Linked DNA regions of Homo sapiens: region 2 is linked to region 1. The links come from fine-mapping of genetic effects on gene expression. A gene starts in region 1. The other region holds a variant in brackets. All regions are shown on one strand. Distances are from middle to middle. Region 1 holds the start of LINC02915 (long intergenic non-protein coding RNA 2915). Region 2 overlaps LOC105370777 (a long non-coding RNA gene).

What was found.
Region 2: its variant is fine-mapped to the expression of LINC02915 in fibroblasts (GTEx, PIP 0.97).

Annotation. Positions count from the first base shown.
Region 1 is chr15:39,244,589-39,255,826 of GRCh38, reverse strand. LINC02915 (long intergenic non-protein coding RNA 2915) reads right to left here and starts at 5,158. Exons shown (of 2, transcript NR_144508.1): 1 at 4,964-5,158; 2 at 982-3,768. All of the region lies in intron 1 of LOC105370777 (a long non-coding RNA gene), which reads left to right.
Region 2 is chr15:39,272,007-39,283,244 of GRCh38, reverse strand. All of the region lies in intron 1 of LOC105370777 (a long non-coding RNA gene), which reads left to right. Among named protein-coding and RNA genes, the nearest start is that of LINC02915, 27 kb to the right of the region's middle. RefSeq lists enhancers at 7,378-7,877, 7,878-8,379. The variant C/A (reference allele first, on the strand shown) is at 6,066.

The sequences.
Region 1 (11,238 bases):
ATAGCAGGCTATGGCATTCCTGTGGGAAAATGTACTGTGTACCACAGTGGTTCGAATTATGTACTGGAATTTAGTAAGTAAAACCCTGGAATAACCAACTTTCCTCATCGTATGTCCTAATGACCCCTTTGAATCTCACATACTCTTCTTGTAAAATGGTCCAAATGGCATTCCTGGAGGGGGTCCATAGATTATATAGTGTATTAGTCTGCTGAAGTTGCCTTAACAAAATACTGAGTAGCTTAAATGACATAAATCTATTTCTCATTGTTCTGGAGGCTGGAAGTCCAACATCAGGATTCCAGCATGATCAGATTCTAGGGAGGGCCCTCTTACTGGCTCCCAGATTACTTCCTTTTACTGTGTCCTTACCTGACAGAGAGAGGCAGAGAGAGAGAGAGAATCAGTCCCTTCTTTTAATAAACCCACGAGTCCTATTGGATTAGGGTCTCACCCTAATGACAATGACCTCATTTAACCTTAATTAGGTTCAATGTTCCATCTCTAAATAAAAGCCCTATCTCCAAATACAGTTACATTGTGGGGAAGTGGTTAGGGCTTCAAATATGAATTTTGGGGAGCACAATTCAGTCCATAGCATATAGATATGTGAGGATTAAGTGATTAAAAGGTCAATTTTTTTTGAATGCCTATTTAAGAAAAGTCATTTAGGGGTTTCATTTTCTTTAACACAAATCACAAGTTTAAAATGTGACTTTAACCCAAGTCACATTTTCTTTAACTCAAAACTCTTTAAAAGTTCTTGGTCAAGTATTATCATTCATTGAATGATGTTTTCCTTGGTTTGAAAACTAGTGAAGGGTGATGGGAACTTGTGGCGAGTTAGGGAGGAGAAGGGGCGCAATCTTAGCGAGGAAGAGGGAGGAGCATAATGGGAAGAACATTTGGTGCAATATTCGCTGAGTTCTAGCTCAGATTTAATCTAAGTTTTATCAGTCAAATGGAGACCTTGATAATTACTTTTTAAAAAAAAGTTTTATTGTAATTGACAAATAATTTTGTATATTTATGGGGTACAATGTGACTTTTTGATACATGTATATACACTGTGGAATGAGCAAATCAGGCTAATTAGCATATTTATTTTCTGAAACAATTATTTCGTTGCGGTAAGAACATTAAAATTCTCTTTGTTTAGCTATTTTGAAATATATAATACATTACTATTAACTATAGACACTGTGCTGTGCAATAGAACACCAGAATTATTCCTCCTAACTGAAACTTTGTATCCGTAGAGCAATGTGGACATTTTCCCTGTCTAACTCCCCACAGCCAATTCCGGGTTTATACCCAAAGATATTTAAATCAGTATTTCAAAGGGATGTTTGAGCTCCTGTGTTCATTGCAGCATTATTCACAAGAGCCAAGATAAGGAATCAACCTAAGTGTCCGTCAGCTGATGAACAGATTTTTTAAAATGTGCTGAATATACAAAATAGGATACTATTTAGCCTTAAAAAAAAAAACAGGCAATTCTGCCATTTTCAAACAGGGATGAACCTAAGGACATTATGTTAAGTAAGATAAGTCAGGCACAGAGCGACAAATACCATATGATCTCACTTATATGTGGAATCTAAAAAGGTAGAAATTGTAGAATTAGAGAGTGGAATATTGATGACTACTTCTTAATGTGTATTTGGAGTTTGAATGACTAAATATACATAAAGCGCTTATATTTGAACATATAAGATGTTACAGATATTTTTTCTGTCCCTTGCCCCATCTTTCCTAGTATAATAAAGTTATGCTACAAGTTAGTCACTTACGAATTCCAATTTGAGGATTCAGTTTGTGACTTTTGCTGGTTCTGAGAAATCAAGAAATACTGAGCCATTGCATGAACAGTGTCACTAAGTATAAGAACCTGAGAAGTTCAACTTCAACAATTCTTAAAGTCTCCCTTGAGTAGAAGGTGAATGAACTGTCATAATTGGGCAAGAAGTGAGTTTATTCTGATTGCAACAGTAGGCAGCTATTAAGAGACGAGTGTAACTCTGGATAGAAGTTTCTATGGTTTCTGCCTTCAGCCTTGTCATGTTCAACATTCTAATCAAGACCTAGATCAAAGGAGAAGTTGATGAGCTTAGTATTCAGCTGAGAGAGATGGGCTATGTTGGCTAGAAATTAAGCAATGAGCTCAATCTAGAAGATACAAGTTCTGAAGTTGGACTCTTAGAAGCAACTGAGGCTCAAGCACTTCTGTAGGCACTACATTCTGGGTAATTTAAAAAATGTGTATACTTATTCTCACATCCTTTAAGCTCAGCTGAAATCTACTCTGCAAAGTCATGCTTGAACCCTTGCTTTGAGCTAAGTGTTCTGTCAATTCCAACATATACACCTGTAATAAAACTGCTGAAATAATGTTAAAGACTCTTTAAAGCCAGGATCTTTACCATATTAATTTTCGTACTCCCAATGTCTAGCGTAGTGCCCAGCACATAAGGAATTTCCAATAAATTATCGGCTGTTGCTAGAATAAAAATTCAAAAGTAGGCAGTGTTGAGTTGGCAACTTAATTTTCTAAAAAGTATTAATTGCCTGCCTATATGGACAATAGAAACAACAACAACAAGAATATCCTGCCAATAAATCAGGCTTTTTGGCTGGTGCCTTGTAGTGCCTTGTAAATATTAGTAAGCATGTTTCCTATTCTAAAGTAGGTTTAAAAAAAAAAAAACTTAAATTCAGTAACTTCGTTTCACCTTCTTGAAGAACCTGCATTTCCTTTACATTTATAACCATTAGAGTGAGGCATGTTAAATAATTCAAATGAGAAATCCTAGTTTCCACCTTTATGTATCTCTCGGGTTTTCCTTTGTTCACCCAGTCTCCTGCAAAAATCATCAAATGTTCAAATTTATAGTTTGTGACTTGGTCACCCTGAACCTCTTGGTGACCCGGAATGAACATGAGATGCTGTTATTTAGCACTTGGAGCTCAGTTAGATATTAGTTTTCCTATAGTGAAATACTCTGATGCCAGTGAGGAAGGAAATCAGAAACAGGAATCAGACGATTCTGGCCAATCCTCCCAATACGAGGAGAGTGTCACTGACGGAAATGGGTCTGGATACTGGGTTTCTCTCTCCTAAATCCTTTGATGCCAGTTATTAAAATGGGTTACTTCTTACAGCCATGACATTGAACACTTCAATGAAATGATGCAAGATTTGGACTCCAAAATGTCCCCTCTCTCCCCTGTCAGCAGCATGAGCCTGAGCACGGCAAGAGTCAGCCAATATAGTGCACACACGCTTTGTTGAACTCATGTTCTTCCACCCAGGAGACTGAGGTTTCTGTGCAAAGAGTAATGTCAATCCGCTGGAAATCACTGGGTTGTCTGTTTCTTTGTTTATGACTTCTCCATATAGTTGGTTCTGCTCCAACTTATTTGAAAGGGACATCTGTTGGATGATTTGATGTGATGTCTGTTCCCTGAAAGTCATTTCTGACAGGGCGATGTAAAGGAACCTGAGAGGGAGCTCCGTCATGTGATGAGTGGCTCTTAAGTGCAGGAACAGATTTGAGAGGATTATCCAAGACAGTAACTTCAAGATCAAACTAGGCCATGGAGTTAGCCATAAGGCTCTGCAAATTCTTTGCGGCTCAGCCCTCTGGGGTCTCCTGCCACCGTGCTTGCCAGTAATGAATTTCACTTCCATGTGGGATCTTTCAGGTCTTCTTGACACACTGAAGCCATATGTGTTTCAGCCACTTCAGACATCATCCTGCTCTTTAACTTGAAGAACAGTCTAAGTCAGTGAGGTTTGCCATGGCATCAAATCTCCTTTTAAACCCACACCGCTTGAATAATAACTATGATTCTGGATAGTTGACTCATGAATATTTCCTGCGAAGGAACAATGAGGGTATTCTGAGGAAATTAAATCCATACAAGTAATTCCCAAACTTTATTCATGTTTGAATACTTTCTAACTTCAAATGTTTTTACCAGACTGGTAACACATAGCAAAATCAACTGATAAGATTGTCCTTTTTTCTTTCTTCCTCTTCCTCTACCTAACACTTCTCTAGTGTGGTACTAACTGGAGAAGGCACAAAGAGTAAGTAGATAGAAAGGGAAATGAAAAGTCAAAGAGCCCTACACTTTTTTTTCCCCCCTCTCTCCTGGTAGTCCTACTTCAAAGGCAGTGTAGCTTTCTCAGAAAGGCCAACCCACACTCAGAGGGTGAAGTTGGAAAACCCCAGCAACCCTATGATACACAATAAACCCATGTAAGGAGGTGGTCCCTTACAAACAGTTGGCTATGAATATCTTCTTTCAAATAGTCTGACACTCGTGGCATAATTATTTTTGTAAGAGTCCTCAGGAAAGTCTGTTTTGAAATACTGCATAGCTTAAGACTACAATAGTACCTTGCATAGTTCAATGTAAACATATCCAGGTGGCTTGTGAAGAAGAGAGGAAGCCAGAGGTGATGCTTCTCTATAGGAAAATGACACTGCAGCCAGCCCCCCGAATCCTGAGAAGACCCTAAATACACCACTCCCCCTCCCCGACAACTACCCAAGTGATATCCTGTGAGTGACTGGATTCTAATCTATCGAATAGTTTCTGTACATGAAAAAAAAATCAATTTTGGAATAAGAGTTGCCAGCAGAAAGATTTCCATTTATTAGGCACCTACCAGGTGCCTGATTCTATTGGGTACATTAAAGATATTCTTTCATTTAGTTCTCACCTGGAAACTCTCAAGGCTTGTTCACATTTTACTGATGAGAGAAATAAGGCACAAGAAGATTAAACAAACAATCCAGGCCAACTCAAGTGGAGGGATGTGTGGTTGAGTTCAGGTCTGCCTGTAAATCGCTTGAGGCCAGAAACTTTTCTCTATTTTGTTCACTGATGTGTCCCAAGTGCCCAGAAGAATGCCTGGCAAATTGTAGCTGCTTAGTAAATATTGAATGATTACCTTAATGAGAGAATCCAGCACGTGTACTCCTAAGTATTATTCTCTACAGTTTCTCCTCAGTCTCCTCACTCCAGTCTGTTACCTGCCCCTTTCTCCCATCCCATTTCAAAGGGAAATGGAGCCCAGAGCTGCAGTGGATGCTGTAGAAAGTTATATCTCTGTGTACATCCTGCTGAAGGAATGGAGCGATTGTCAGGGAGCTGTGTCATTGAGTCTGAGGCCTTACTTCCTTGCTCTCCCCCTTCTATTTCCTGCTTCCTCCCACAAAGATTTTCTGAGTCCTTGCTGTGTGCTGAGCACTGGAGACTCACTATGAACAAAGTTGGTATGGTCCCTGTCCTTATGCAAATTATTGAATAAATTATAGGTACGGTGAGTGTTTTGACAGAGAGGTAAGAATGTTATAGAAACATATAACAAGAGGACTCAGACCTATTCTTTGAGGTCAGGAAAGACATCTTTGCAAATTTTAACTTTAAGACAAGATATTAAGGATAATTAAGAGTTCCTAATGTATACCTTGGGTTTCCTGGATGTCTCTGCCTAAGACACTTTTAGGGAGGAGTTAAGACTGTTTTCCTATAATACTAAGAAGTCATTTGCCTTTTCATTCTTATTGCATTACAAGTGTACAATGGAGTTTTACAGAAGCTGCATAACATAGATTTCACAACAGATTGAATGCAGAAGCAGACATGAGAATCCATTTATCCTTTAGTAAGCCAGATATTGGTAAGATTTGCAAAAAATGCATAACAGCACTACTAGTCTCACTCATGTATTTTTGGTTTTGGAAAACGTGGCTATGTTTTCATAAAATGTTATTTATGTTAAGGTATAATCAGTTTACTATGTTGTTTTAAAATGAATTAAATATTTAAAAAAGAATTGGTTCTAATTTGCAACATGATATAATGATATAATCTACCTTTTTTAAAATGAAAAGGTCTTTGGGGTTCTTCAGAAGATTTGAGAGCACAAAGGGGCCGAGCCCCAAAAGTTTGCGAATGGCTGAGCTAAGAGAAGAGGAGGAGGGAGTGTTCCACAGTGAATAAACAGCCTGTGTAAAAGCCCTTCCCTGGTATACGACTTGTAGTTTTGAGGATATTAAAGAAGTCCAATGTGGTTGGAACATAGAAAGTGATGGAGAGAGAATATAATATGCAGAACAATGGGTAAGCAGTGCCATATTTGAGAGCAATGACTTAATCTTAGGTCAGTGGGAAGTCACTGAAGGGTTTTAAGCAGGTTGGAATTGATGAGATACATGTTGAGAGAGGAAGGAAAAGGAAAGAAGAAAGGAAAAGAATGGGGGGACACAGAGAAGGGAGGTCAGGAGGCTTTTGGGGAAAACTTAGTAAGCTATGAGGGAGGGACAGTAGGGCTGGATAGAAGAGGATAGATGTAAATAATATTATGGAGAATCTAGAGGACTTGGGTTTGATTGTCAGTAGAGAGTGACTTGTTTTGTAAAAGAAGGAATGAATTTTCTCATGGTTTTTTAGTCATACCACTTGATTTTAAATTCTAGCGCTAATTCTGTGACTGTGAGCAAATTATTTAAACTCCATAAGCTACAATTTTCTCATCTGTAAAAAAAACAGGAACAAGAGCCACAATTTCATATGGTTGTTGAAGTTATTTTAAAATGCACACATATCTAATATAACTGGATTATCGTAATTATTTATTTGTTTCCCTTACCTTCTCTTTAACTCTCTTTCTTACCATTTTAAGATGGAGGGGGGAAGTTGGCAGTGTTCTTCAGGAAACATAAATTCTTGGGAAGGGAGTTTGGACACCATATGCAAAATCTCCTCCTGTGATTCCTCTACACACTGGAGGTGTGCTTTCCTCAAGCACTTGAAGCAAATGTGTTCTCTAGTCTCTTCTCTCTCTCTCTTTTTTTCCCTGAAGACTACTCTGTCATTTAAGTTCAGTTATTTTTGTCTTACCTGCTCACTTTGGACTTGAAACTTTGTCCCGTTCTTCTTGTTCCATAGTCTGATTCCTACTATTTTTTTCCTTCACCTTTCTCTTCCCAAAGTCTTAGGCTAGCCTTCTCTATTTCTCAGCTTTGTCATGCCCTTGACTTTGCAAGATTCTCTTTCCTGGCAACCACCATCTACAGACAAAATATTAATAACTTTGGAGGAGTTAGGACAGAGGCATTAAAATTATTGTAAATAAAGCCAGATAGTCCTTTTGACTGGGTCCTGAACTACCTTCTGTTATTCCTACAAGTATCTTTTGAAAGGCTGTTCTCAAATGCGTTGACTTGAGAATTTAGAGAAATATTCTTTCGGGCTGAAGGGAAAAGAGACAGAGAACTACAAGGTCACAGGACCATGACAATATGTTGCCTTTTGCCAAGTGGCCCTTATTAAACAGCCTAGGAGGTGAGTGGAGGAGAGCATGGGTCTGGCAGTCTGCCCTGGGACAAGGAGCTTTGTCTGCACGCAGGTTCCCAGCTCACAGACGGTCCATATTTGAATAGAGCCCATTGTTTACCACTTGGGTGGAAAACAGAGGAAATAGGCAATGAGTCAGGCACCCACTTGTTTCAAAAGGAATTTTTAAAAGAGTTTCAGGGAAATCTAAGAGAAAAATAGAAGTTTGAAGGAAGATGAAGGAGACAAGGACAAACTGAGGGCTGCTGGATGCTAATGACATGCTTTTCTTTGCTGATAGCCTATCATTCTGGGTCTGTGGGTTCCAACCCTGAACCTGAATCCAACAGGAAAGGTACTTCTGGAGAAGAGCTTCCACTCTGGGGAGGCATTCTGACTAAGATCTAATCTGAAGTAGTTTGGAGTAAATTGATCTGCCTCTTTTCTCCATTTAAAGGACATTTGCTAAAAATGCCTTCTTCTTCAAAGGGCCCGCAGAACAGAGAGAGGGGATTACAGTGTGTATAATTTTTGAAATATGGTAACTGATCAGCAAATGGCATAAACTTAGATCTTATACAGGTCCTGTTTTCTGTGACATGATTTCCTGATCTGCAGATGCCCTGACTGACATTCCGCTTTCCTATGGCTCAATGCTTGGTGTAGAAATGGTCTTTCCATTTTGTCATCTCATTTGGGAAAAAATGCATGATAGTGGAATGAATGCCACAGAAAGGAAGGAAATGAGTTGGTGTCTATGGCAAAGACTCAACTATGTTCTGCTGAAAGCTCTGGTTTGCAGTCCAAACTTGATATATTATCTATTTTTTTTAATTTTCAGAAACCTTATTTTTTTCCCCAAATTTGGAAAGAAAGGAATAAAATTCAGATATTACAGAAAAAAATCTCAAGGAAGCAAGTAAAAACAACCTGTAATCTGATCCCCAGAGATAACCAACATAGTATAATGCTGTATATCTTTTAATATATAAAATAGTAAAATATGTGTATATATGTATATATAATTAATGGAATATTTTATACATTCTTGTTAGTAACCTAAATTTTTCATCTATAATCTGTATCACAATTTTTATGTTATGATATATCTTATTCTTCCTCAACATAATTTTGGAGGCTGTTAAAACATTATTAAATCGTTCTCTAGTTTTAGACACTTAGATTAGTTTCACGGTTTTACTATTAAAATCCTTCCTACTAAAGTTTCCTAACAAATGTTCATTCATTATTCAGCAAGTATTTCTTGAGCACCTACTATGTTCTAGATATGAAATTAGGCAGTTTGTTGGGGGCAAAATGGTAAGACACAGATAGTCTCCTCTTTCAAGGGGTTTACTGAAAAGGAATAAATCTTGCCTAAATAATCGTGACTATTTAGGAGATGAATTTCCTTTTCCTATGGGTTTCATGTCCCTTTATATTCTCTATAAGTCTGGTTCATAAAGCTAACTTTTGTGGCTGGTTTGTTAAAGATTTTGTTAACTTATAAGCTAAATATGTAAGTTAGACAGCACTGACAATATTATCACAGTGATTATGATTGATATAATTTTATAAAAATAGGAAGTGCACAGAGAAATAGCTGAAATTGGACTCCATTATAATCAGAAAATCAGCTTAATAATATTGGGCTCAGAAATTCTAGTCTGCACAGTATAACTGAAGTTGTGCTTTGACAGCAGCGACTCAGATGGTGGTCACAACCTTACTTTATTGGGACAATGAAATATTTTAGTGGAGTCATTGGCATCTCACTCTGCTTCTGAAATCAGGGCCACCTCTATTATTACTTTCCCAGTAGAGATGACTGGTTTGCTCATTTGGTCAGCATACACTTTCCTCTGAAGTCAAGACTGTGGGATTGATTCCATTTGGTTCAGTGATTCTCTGACTACTTCAGGACCACTTCAGCTTGCATTTCTCAATTCTAAACATCCCTGGTAGAAAATCATATCCTTGTTATAGACAAAAAGATGAAGAATGCAGAAATATTTGATCAAAAGTGCCAGAGTCATGGTTGTAAAAGGCGTAATTTTAAGATGACTTCCAAGGCCCCTGAACTTGATATTATGCCCATATTAGGGTGAAAGGGAAATTGTCCAGGTAGGCAAAACTAATCATGCTTTTAAAAGCAGAGATTTTTCTCTGGCTGGCAGCAGACGAGGGAGTCAGAGAGATTTGAAGCATAAGAATAATTCAAACTACCATTGCTGGCTTGAAGATGGAGAACCCACATGGAAAGGGTAAGAAGAAAATGAATTCTGCCAACAACCAATGAGCTTGGAAGAAGTCCCCAAGACTCAGATGGGAATGGCAGCTGGCTGATATCTTGAGTGTGAGACTCTGAGTGAAGAATTAGCTAAGCTTACCTGGAATTGTGTGCAATAATAAGTGGCTATCGTTTCAAGTTTGCCTTGTTTGCATAATTTGTTATTCAACAGCAGAAATATAATACAGCGGTCAGAACAAACCAGATTTTATGCCTTACTGATACCAAGTTTGCAACCTCTTTACCTACCGTCAACCAAGGGCACATTTCTTGACAAATTTAAATAGGTAAGAATGAATTTTATGAATCTCTAAACCACCACATAATAGAAGAACATGGTATCATCAAAGGTATAAAGCCCATAATATATGCACATTTATCGATATTAATGAAAAGCTTCTTATAATTTATAAAAAACAAACTCATGGTAGTTTAACAAATGACATAATAGAAATACATGCAGGCTGCTGTTAGGGTATAGAGGAGGCTCACCTAACCCTACCTGGGTGGAGCAGGAAGAGTTTTTCCTAGAGGAAATGGTGATTGTCAAAGGAATGTAGGAGGCGACAACTTATGTTTACAGACCCTGTTCATGTGTGTAAAAAAATTGGGGGAGATAGAAGTCTACTATGATGAACCAAGAGGAGGGGTAGGAGGTGGATAAGGCAACTTGGGATTTCATTTCCTTTCCTACTCCAAGTCTTAGAGTGATCATCTCAGAGGAATGCTCTTATCAAGACCCTCACTTAAAAGCTTGCCCTGGTAGTAGAAGGTACTTCAATGACAGGCTAAAGGCAGCTTTTCACTACTCATCTAAAGTTGGAAAGGCTTTACATGTGAGTTAAGTTTAATGGAAGGTATCCCTACTGTGGGGGTATCTAAACCACAGGCATCTGAGAAAACCTTAGGTGAGGGCTGAATGCAAATAACGACAGTGCTGAGAATTTACAACCTAGAAAGGCTGAAAATATTGCAGTAATTATTATTACTGCTGCTTCTTAAATTCCTCATTTACAAAATCAAAGTAGGACCAATTCCTGTCTAATTAAGCCAACGTGGTGACAAAGAAAAAAGTTATTCTGAATGTTTTTATTTCTTTAACATTATCTCATTTCTTTGAACTATATTCACTGAATATGTTTTAATTTGATGACTCAAGTCAGTTGAAAATGAATAGAAACCATGTGTATTATTACATGCATGGTTGGGGACCAAGAAGAGCCATCAATGCTGCATCACCAGATGAACTGGCTTACCTCACTGGCTCATGTGTGAAAGTAAACATAGTTCCACAGGACTTTCATACTTTCTGTCAATCTGGCCATATAAATTGACAACCAGAGCTTAGCAAGTTCCTCAGAGATTAGGCAGATCCAATCAAGTTTGTAGGTGAAAGGGTCAAAATGAAGGTTAGAAGATAATTCCTCTGGTATCCTCATGTATTTTGAGAAAGAAAAGGGTCTAGTAAATTACAAAGATCCTCTTGTAGAAAGAACATTATATGAAAATGTACAAATGGAGTCATTTCTTGGGGGAGGTGTCTTGGTGTCCTGGGAGGCTACCTCACTTCTAAAGTCCTTAGATGTCTTCTGTGC
Region 2 (11,238 bases), 27 kb before region 1:
TATGTAGTCATTGGCCAGTCTCAAGGAGAGGTTCAGAATCTCTGAAACTGTGGCATGGAAGTGGTGGTGATCCACTCAAGTCCCATGTCAAGAAGGAGGTACTCATTCCTACATCTGTGGGAGTGTGGCAGTGGATGGCTCCCAGTTGATTCTCCTCCAAGAACTGGCCTCGGCCATCGGTGCTGCCTTGCCCAAGGTCATGTCCCATCCCCAAGGTCTTCCCACACGAAATGGCTGTCTTGCGTGCATCAAGGCAGCACAACTCTGGGGGCCACCACAGCCCCAGGGCTTCCTGTAGGATGGCTGGGGCCCCTGCTGTGCATGCATCATAGTCCAACCTCTCTTGGCCCAATCCTAAAAGCAGTTCTTCATAAAGCTTTTACATGCAATCTCAGAGCCTCAGAGTCTGTCCCCTGGGGATCCTGATTTACCACATATTCTTTCAAAACAGTTAAAGTGTCTGTTCATATTCTGCACCCACTCATTGATGGGGTTGTTTGTTTTTTTCTTGTAAATTTGTTTGAGTTCTTTTTAGATTCTGGATATTAGCCCTTTGTCAGATGAGTAGATTGCAAAATTTTTCTCCCATTCTGTAGGTTGCCTGCTCACTCTGATGGTAATTTATTTTGCCGTGCAGAAGCTCTTTAGTTTAATTAGATCCCATTTGTCAATTTTGGCTTCTGTTGCCATTGCTTTTGGTGTTTTAGACATGAAGTCCTTGCCCATGCCTATGTCCTGAATGGTATTGCGTAGGTTTTCTTCTAGGGTTTTTGTGGTTTTAGGTCTAACATTTAAGTCCTTAATCCATCTTGAATTAATTTTTGTATAAGGTGTAAGGAAGGGATCCAGTTTCAGCTTTCTACATATGGCTAGCCAGTTTTCCCACCCCCATTTGTTAAATAGGGAATCCTTTCCCCATTTCTTGTTTTTGTCAGGTTTGTCAGAGATCAGATAGTTGTAGATGTGTGGTATTATTTCTGAAGGCTCTGTTCTGTTCCATTGGTCTGAATCTCTGTTTTGGTACCTGTACCATGCTGTTTTGGTTACTGTAGCCTTGTAGTATAGTTTGAAGTCAGGTAGCATGATACCATCTCACACCAGTTAGAATGGTGATCGTTAAAAAGTCAGGAAACAACAGGTTCTGGAGAAGATGTGGAGAAATAGGAACACTTTTGCACTGTTGGTGGGACTGTAAACTAGTTCAACCATTGTGGAGGACAGTGTGGGGATTCCTCAGAGATCTAGAACTAGAAATACCATTTGACCCAGCCATCCCATTACTGGGTATATACCCAAAGGATTGTAAATCATAGTACTATAAAGACACATGCACACGTATGTTTATTGCAGCACTATTCACAATAGCAAAGACTTGGAACCAACCCAAATGTCCAACAATAATAGACTGGATTAAGAAAACGTGGCACATATACACCATGGAATACTATGGAGCCATAAAAAATGATGAGTTCATGTCCCTTGTAGGGACATGGATGAAGCTGGAAACCATCATTCTCAGCAAACTATTGCAAGGACAAAAAAACAAACACTGCATGTTCTCACGCATAGGTGGGAATTGAACAATGAGAACACTTGGACGCAGGAAGTGGAACATCACATACCGGGGCCTGTTGTGGGGTGAGGGGGGCTGGGAGGGATAGCATTAGGAAATATACCTAATGTAAATGACGAGTTAATGGGTGCAGCACACCAACATGGCACATGTATACATATGTAACAAACCTGCACGTTGTGCACATGTACCCTAGAACTTAAAGTATAATTAAAAAAAAAAAAGTTAAAGTATGTTAGAACATGCTGGAGAAAACAACCCCTGGATATCTGCCACAGCTATTCTCCATATTCCAGGGAATAAAACAAAACCACCTCACCAAGAATCCTTAGAATGCTCCTTGCTATGAAAGAAACGAATTTTATCTCTAAACAACCCACAGAGGTGAGATGTCAATGGCTCCACCAGCTACACCAGTAGTATGTGTCATTTCCCACTTATCATTACCAGTTCCTTTAAATGAAGAACATTTTGAGCAACAGGTTTTTTAAAGGAGTTGGAGAGTATTCTCACATTAATATCTATAGAATGATAATTAGAAAAGATAAAAGGATACTTTTATCATATGGATTAAGAATGATTTTCTTATCTAAATATGACTACAAATGTGTTCACATTTTTGTTCCATCTGTCCTGATCCCTGAGTCCTTAGCACATTGGCAACAATGATTGGCTCAATTCTTTCACAAAGTTTATTTTGACTAATTGGTTAAATTTTTAATAATTCGGATATAGTTTTTTTTTTTTTTTTTTTTTTTTTTTAAACAGAGTCTCGTTCTGTCACCCGGGCTGCAGTTGCGATGGCACGATCTCAGCTCACTGCAACCTCTGCCTCCTGGGTTCAAGTGACTCTTGTGCCTCAACCTTCCAAGTAGCTGAGATTACAGGCACACGCCACCACACCTGGCTAATTTTTGTATCTTTAGTAGAGACGGGTTTTACCATGTTGGTGAGGCTGGTCTCGAACTCCTGACCTCAGGTGATCCACCCGCCTCACCCTCCCAAAGTGTTGGGATTACAGGCGTGAGCCACTGTGCCTGGGCATATTTACAGTTTTAAAATCCCTTTTAGTCACTGTGCAGCCCCCATGATCCCATGTTCTATAGCTGACTAGAGGTTTATGAACTTTTTTAAACGTAAGTTAGGATGGCTATTAGTGGGTAAACCTTCTCTTCCAAACTCTGTGGGTGCTGCTCATAAACATGATACTTGTTCCTCAAATAAATGCTCAATTTGTTAATTTGCAATTTGGGATTTTCAAATTTATGGCTTCCAAGTTCTACATCAGATACTAAAATCAGGTTATCAGATAGGCAGGTAGTTTAGCAAAGTACATATGCTTATTTTCTTAGGTTCTAGAAAATCTGGTCTAAATCTAAACCTGGTCATTCTTTTATGCTTGGAAAATCCTCCTACTTCAGGAGTTGGGGGATGACCATAGTCAAGAACTGAAAAGAATGTTCAGAGTTGGGAGCTGAGCTGAACTTGTGGTAACGAATCTATGCCTCCCTTTCTTCAGTAGCTTTGAAGGGAAGTCACAGTCAATGAAATGAAGAAAAAAAAAGGAAGAATGTGGGGTTTGAGGCGTATTTTTATTGAAGTTTATTAAATTACATTACCTAAATGTAATTATAGTAAAATGCACATTTCTCAAATTTTGATGATCCCAGTTACACAGAACATTTACACAGAACTTTACATCACCCTAGAAAATTCCCTCGCGCTTTTTCCCAGTCAGTTCCCCACTCCCTCCCAAAAAAGTTAATCTCTGTTTCGATATCCTGACAAATTAGCTTTGCCTGTTTGCCTATTCTTTTTATTTACATATTGTTAACTTTTTAATTTCTAAAATTTTTGTGGGTACATAGTATGTATTTATGAGGGGCATGAGATGTTTTGATACAGTCTTTGCCTGTTCTTGAAATTGACATAAATGGACTCTTGTGTCTGGCTTCCCCATTGCACCTCTGCCCTCAACGTATTATCTTTGAGATTCATCCAAGTTATCACATGTATCGGTAGTTAATTCATTTTTTCTGCTTTGGTTGACTCATTTTGCATTGTATAAATATACCACAATTTGTTTATCCATTTTCCTTTTAATGGACATCATGTTGCTTTTAGTTTTTGGCTATTGTGAATAAAGCTGCAAAGAACAATCTTGTACAAGTTACTTGGTGGACATATGTTTTCATTTCTTTTGGGTGAACACCAAGGAGAGGAATTGCAAGATCGTAAGTAACATTTGGCATTTTTAGGCTTTTTAATTTTAACCATTCTAGTGGGTGTATAGTGGTATCTCATTGTAGCTTTAACTTTTATTTTCCTGATTACTCACATGTTGAGCATTCTTATATCTTCTTTTGTGAAATGTCTGTCCAAATCTTTTGCCCATTTTTATTGGGTTATTTGTTTTGTTTAAAAACTACTTAATTGCAAGAATTCTTTATATTGCCCAAATACATATCGTTTGTGAAACATATGTATTTTTAGTGTTCTATTTTTTTTTTTTGAGACGGAGTCTTGCTCTGTTGCCCAGGCTGGAGTGCAGTGGTGCGATCTTGGCTCACTGCAAGCTCCGCCTCCCGGGTTCATGCCATTCTCCTGCCTCAGCCTCCTGAGTAGCTGGGACTATAGGCGCCTGCCATCACGCCCGGCTACTTTTTTTTTTTTTGTATTTTTAGTAGAGACGGGGTTTCACCGTGTTAGCCAGGATGGTCCGGATCTCCTGACCTCGTGATCCTCGCGCCTCGGCCTAGTATTCTATTTTATATCGTTCCTTGACTTTTTATTTTTACCCTTTGCTTTATTCTTCAGTAGTTGATCCTAGGGATCCATCTATCTATCTATCTATCTATCTATCTATCTATCTATCTATCTATGTATCTATCCATCCATCCATCCATCCATCTGATATGGTTTGGCTGTGTCCTTACCGAAATGTCATCTTGAATTGTAATCCCCATAATCCCTATGTGTCTAGGGAGAGATCTGGTGGGGGTTGATTGGATCATGGGGGTAGTTTCCCCATGCTGTTCTCATGATAGTGAATGAGTTCTCACGAGATCTGATGGTTTTATAAAGGGCTCTTCCTTCTTCGCTCATCACTATTCTCTCTCCTGCCGCCCTGTGAAGAAGGTCCTTGCTTCTGCTTTGCCTTCTCACATGATCGTAAGTTTCCTGAGGTCTCTCCAGCCATGTGCAACTATGAGTTAATCAAACCTCTTTCCTTCGTATATTACCCAGTCTCAGGATATTTCTTTATAGCAGTGTGAAAACAGACTAATACACTATTTATCTGTATTAATTTGTTCTCACACTGCTATAAAGAAATACCTGAGCCTGGGTAATTTATAAAGAGGTTTAATTGGCCCCCAGTTCTGCAGGGTGTATAGGAAGCAAGGCAGTGTCTGCTTCTGGGGAGGCTTCAGGGAGCTTTGACTCATGGCAGAAGGCAAAGCAGGAGCAGGTGTATTACATGGCAGGAGAAGGACCAAGGTGGGGGGTGCCACACACTTGTAAACAACCAGATCTCACGAGAACTCACTATCATAAGAACATTGCCAAGGGGTATGGTGTTAAACTATTCATGAGAAACTGCCTCCATGATCCAATCATCTCCCACCAGGCCCTACCTCCAACATTGGGGATTACAATTCAACATGAGAATTGGGTAGGGACACAGATCCAAACTATATCACTGTCTATATATCTCTTAGTATAGTATGTCTTGAACTTTATGTGTAATGTAAGAGGCTTACAACAGTATAATACCATTTGCCTTCCCAGTCTTTTTTGCTATTACTGTCGTATAATTTGCTGCTATATAGATTACAAACCCCTAATTACAAGGCTTTTATTTTAACTTTAAATCTGTTTTTTCAAAGATATTAGGAAAAAATAGTATTACGTATTTATCTACTTCTTTACCATTTCAGGTACTTTTTAAGCTTTCCTGTAGAACTAAGTTATCAAGTTTCAGACTAGTATGATTTCAGCATGAAAACCTGTTTTTTTTTTTTTTTTTTTAGCATTTCTCACAACGTAGGTCTACTGGCAAAGGATTCTTCTCAGCTTTAGTTGATATGAATATGTCTTCATTTCATCTTTGCTTTGAAGGATATTATTACTAGATATATGTTCTTTTTCTGGATATAGAGAACTCTAGGTTGACAGACCTTGTGTGTGTGTGTTTTGAAATGAGGCTGCACTGTTTTCCTGAAAATCAGCCATTTTTTTTTATTATTGTACTTCTACATATTGTTTATTTGTCTGTTTTTAGGATATTCTTTCTTTTCAGAATGTGTTGTTATGTGCTTACAATGTGTGGCCGTTATTCCCACAGACTTTTGATTTTTTTTTCCTATCACTTTCTTCTGAGACCGAGTACAGAGTCCAATGACAGCTTGCTGTTTTCTCATAGGCCTCTAGTGCTCTGCTCAGTATTTTCTTCAGTCATTTTTTTTTTTGCTTCATTTTGGATTGTTTCTTC[C/A]TGTGCTAAATTCAACATTAGGGCCTGCTCCAAGACAGTTTCTGTTGACTGATATTTTTCCTGAATATAGGTCATACCATCTTATTTCTTTGCCTATCTCATGATATTTTGTTGAAAACCAGTCATTTTAGCAAATAGATGATGTCAAAATTCTGGATTCTTACTTTCCCCCCAAAGGTTGTTGTCATTTTGTTGTTGCTGCTGCTCTTGCTGTTTTAGTAAGTTGCCTAGACTTATTCTGCAGAACTTGTTTCCCCACTGATGTCAGGCAGCTATTTTTTTCTTTTTTTTTTTTAATTCTTATTTTCATTTTACTAGCCTGGGTTCCCACGGGATTCCCCTGCATCTTGTAGTTTAGTGGTCACCCAAAGACTGGTCAGATGTTGTGCTCAAACACCTCAAGCCAGCAGAGCTTCCACCTTCTGCTGATGTGGTAACAGGAGCATGTTCCAAGTTCAGACAGTTTTCAAGTCTTCCCTGGGTTTTACTTTCAACTGGGCCCTTCTGGGTGTCCCATGAGCATGTGTGTAGCATCCCATCCCCGTCTGCCTGGGGTCTTATCTAGGCTTTCTGCAGTGCTCTCATTTCTAGGATCTCTTTGCTAAATGTCTGGCTAGTCTGCCAGCCTGAAATGCCCCCGATCTGTGAGAGCAACCTCAGACTATGAGGCATGTGTGTTACTAGCCTTATTATTTTACTGACAGTCCCACTAGACACGAGTGAGCCCTGCTAGGAGTGAAGCTGCTGGTTTTCATGACCAGCCCTGCCCTGGTAGAACTACCAAGACCCTTGAGCTGGAGAGATGATGGGAGCAGCCCCAGGCAAGAATACCATGGAGGCCCAAAGTCTATCTGTCTTTTATTTAATGGGTAAATCCTTCTCAGTTGGTTTGTTTGCTTATTTTCTTGTCTTTGCTTAGTTTTCAAAGGCCTAAAATTGTTATTTTTGACAATGTTATCCAATTTTACAGTCATTTCTTGGGGAGATTTACTGATTATCATGGTGAGAAATCTTTCTCTGACAGATATATTTTGACAAAGGAGAGGCAGAAAAAGACAAAGGCTATGATAGCATGAGAAAGCTACTAGGAACAGTTTTCCCTGTGATTTGTAAACCTGTAACTAAACCTCCAGGCTTTTGGTTCAAGGAGCTGTAAGGATTAAACATCCCCGAATACAGTTATTTTAACCAAATGACTCGACGATGAAACAGGTTTAATAATATGCATAATTATTGTGTCATGGGAATTAAATACTAGGATAAAGAATTTACAGAAAATATATCATATTTTATACATATTTATATGTATCTTTTTGTAATACACATGATATATACTACAAAAATTATAATTACTACCATATCTAGCTCAGAAAATCTTTAGATTTTTTTAAAATTATGAGAATGATTAAGGATCCTAGAAGACTATCAATATCAGCATTTTTCCTTGATGCTTCACTTAATGGAAATTGGTGCCATCCTAAATTAAATGTTAAATAGTAAGTGTTGTATTCCTTGCTCTTTGTTTCTGTCAGATATTAGGGACAGAGACAAGTTATCAGCCCCTCCATCTCTGCTCCAACTCTCTGAAACCTTTATGAGGACCTCATGTTCCCTTAACTGGAGGCAAAGCCCTTTCCTTCCAGCAGCAGCGAGGAGAGGCGGTGAACACGCAGGGTGATGGCCTCTCAACCCCCTGCCATGTGGCTGGCTCACAGCCTTCTCAGCTTGCATGTGAAAAAGGAGTTTATGGGCCACCTGATGGCCCTGGCTCTGAAGAGATGGAAGAAACAAGGGGTCTTCTAAGCGTCAGGAAGCTGATGCTGTCTGTTGAGAGGCTTCTCTGACATCACTCCCTCACCTTCTACCACCCTGCTCACCTGCCTCCAGGCTCTAGCAACTGGGCTACTTGCCGCGGGCCTCTAGGCCAGCATGGAAATCCCCACAGCAGAGGGAAATCCCAGCAGAGGCCTAGGGTCCCCAAGGATAGCATGCAGGCCTGGAGGGGCTGGGGAGAGGGGCAGGAGGGCCAGCTGCTTCCCACTGCTGCCTCAGGAAAATGAGGCAGAACTAGACTATCCTAAAGACCTTACTGATTTTCACTGAACTTCTGTTCAGCTTTTGTTGGCCCTTATCTTCTGGTCTCCTGTAAGATTTTTTTCTGGGCATCAAGGATTGGACTAACCAAGCTTCACCTTTTGTTTTTGTTACTTGTGTGTTTCGTCTCTTTTCCTCAAATATCAGGTTAGGGTGTGTGGCGGTGACATTACTTCTTCAGCTATTTATCTTTCTATAATATTTCCATAGTCCTCTCCCTATTTCTCTGCAGTTTCAGCCTTTTTTGTTTGTTGTTTGTTTTTGAGACAGGGTCTCATTCTGTCACCCAAACTGGAGTACAGTGGCACGATCATAGCTCACTGCAACCTTTGCCTCTGGAGGTTCAAGCCATTCTCCCACCTTAGCCTCCTGAGTAGCTGGGACTACAGGTGCATATCACCATGCCTGGCTAATTTTTGTATTTTTAATAGAGATGAAGTTTCACCATGTAGCCTAGGCTGGTCTTGAACCCCTGGGTTCAAGCGATCTGCCTGACTCAGCCTCCCAACGTGGTAAGATTACAGGCATGAGCCACTGCATCTGGCCTCTGCAGGTTCAGCTTTTAATATTTTGCACGAGTTCATCAGGTCAAATTTTAGTTGTGTTCCAAATAGAATACAAAACATTCTGGTAATTGACGAGTACAGTGTTTCTCAATCATAGCTGCTTATTAGAATCACTAGGTGGACGAGGCTATTTGAAAATCCTGGTACCCAGGCTGTACACTCTGGTCCAGTGAGACCAGAATCTCTGGTTGTGCAATCCAGGTAGTCTGTACTAAGAAACAGTGCTCTCATGGCAAGTAATACCTTTATGTGGCACACTAATATTTGTCTTTGCTGTTTTATCTTAAACCAACATTTACCACATCCTCAAAGGATACATTAGAATATTAATTGGCAAAGAGTATAGCCATGCAGAAACTGAATTATATCATGGTCTCCATTGCAGTCTGTAAATACTTCTGAGGTCGTGTTGGCAGAATGCCTTTCAGTGTCCTTGTATTTGCTAGCTGCTTTGGTGGCTGACAGCCTAAAAGAGACTTGCCTCAGGAGAGCAAATAAGAAAAAACAAATAAAACTGTAGATATGGATGTCGTCACATTTCAAAGACTGCTGGCCCATTATGTAAAATGCAATGACACATTATTACAAATATTTACCTTAATTTTTCCCCCCTGTAGTCTTTGTTCTCATTTAAACACTGAATGGCCATTGACTTCTTTTGAAAAAGAAAAAGAAAAATGGTAAGTCTTTCACTACCTTTCTCTTCAGACTTGACTTAGATTTCCTAGTCCCGCTGTTTGAGATGACTTGATTGCCTCTGTTTCAAGCTCTGTGGTTCATTTCTTCAGCCTCTAAGCTGTTTCAGCTTCCTTTAGGCCATGGATAGAAAGCTGGTGAAAATCGGCAAATATTTTGCATAAATAGTTGTTGGACCCCAAACCTCCACAAACCAACTTTTGAGTTTTTTTCTTTTTAAGGAGAAATGGGTAGAGAAGTGAGAACCAGTTTTATGGATCTGGTGCCTAGCAAGGTGCCTGGCAGGCAGTCTGAGAGCCCCAGATATTTGTTGAGAACCTGAAACACAGTGCTCGATGGAGTTCTCCTCTATTTCTAATCGCGGATGGTATTCGGGGGTTAGCAAGCAGAAAGAATTTCCCGGCATGAGAGAGGTAAAAGGGAAGAATGTCTCATCCAGAATTTTGGCAATTCCATTTTAGAATTTTCTTTTAATTGGAGGGGCATATTGTTTGTTTGCTTTTTAAAGAAAAGAATCACAGTTATTTTAGGATGTGTGATCCTGGAAGATATTATATTCAGATCTATTTAAAAGAAAAACATTTAACTTTTTTCCAAGACTCAGTCCCTGCTCTAAGTTTTCTCATAGTGCGTAAGTTTGTCAGGCATGTTTCTATATTCATTGGAAAGAATAAATGACAGTTGGAAATAGAAGGATTGGGGCAGCTGCAAATGACAGGCAGGCTGCACACTGGAAATGCCATGGGGTAGAATTCCTGAGACTGCAGTACAAGCAGTATTCCCTAGACCTGTGAACTTCAGTGGTCCTGAGAAGGAGACTGGACCTTCTTCATGCCAGTAATGACAGTGAAGAATCACAGTTGTCATTTCCACCTCTGCTTACAATATTCGGTTGACTAGTGTTTAAGGGTATTCAGTAATTGTATTCTCAGATCTGGTCCATGCATTGCTACCTTAGTCCACTTTAGGGGTAATAGCATAGGCATAGGAAGAACATCTACTGACCTGGTAGAAAAGATGCTCTGATAACATATGCATCGTTTATTTGGACAATAATAACATTCCAAGGAGCAAAGGTCAGACTGTGCCTTTCATCATTTTCTCAGACAGTCTTCTTTTAGCCACAGCACCTCAGCTGGGGCAACCATGAAGTACAGCTAATTTTCCAGTAGAGGACAGAACTGTGGTTTGCTATGTAGAATAATCTCAGCCTGCTATAATTAATATTATTTTTCTCCCTGTTCTTCCTGTCATTCCCATCATGATATAATAGCTCACTACTACCCAAGAGTCACAGAAAACTAGATAACTAGATGGAATTGTTTGGCCTGGTCCTCTGGATAAACATCTCTTGCCATTGTCACACTGAGGGTCCCCTCTTAGCCCAGTCACCTGGTTTCTCCATATGATTCTGGAATCTGGTTGTCTGTTGGACTCTCATAGAAGTTCCTCTGGAGGAAAGACCGTCCACTCAGTCTACAGCCAAGCCAGGATAGGATAGGTATGAAGAGTGCTGGGTTTTCAGGAAGCAGGAGAAAGATCACCAGGCTGAGGGGCTTCCCCAGGTCCTTTCTGAAAACAGATTTGCTAGATCCTCATGACAGTTCAAACTGAGTGTTTAAGGACTTGTACTCATATACTGAATATTATGTCTCTATAATCAGGGGAGTGGACAAGGTATAGAACATAATGTCAGACATAAGTCTCCCCATTCTGGGAATTTATAGCCTGCTGAAAAAATTTCCATGAAATTATTAAACACCAGTGTCTTGGAGGATGTCCCCAGTGTATTTGGAATGACCAGGAAGATGCTGTGG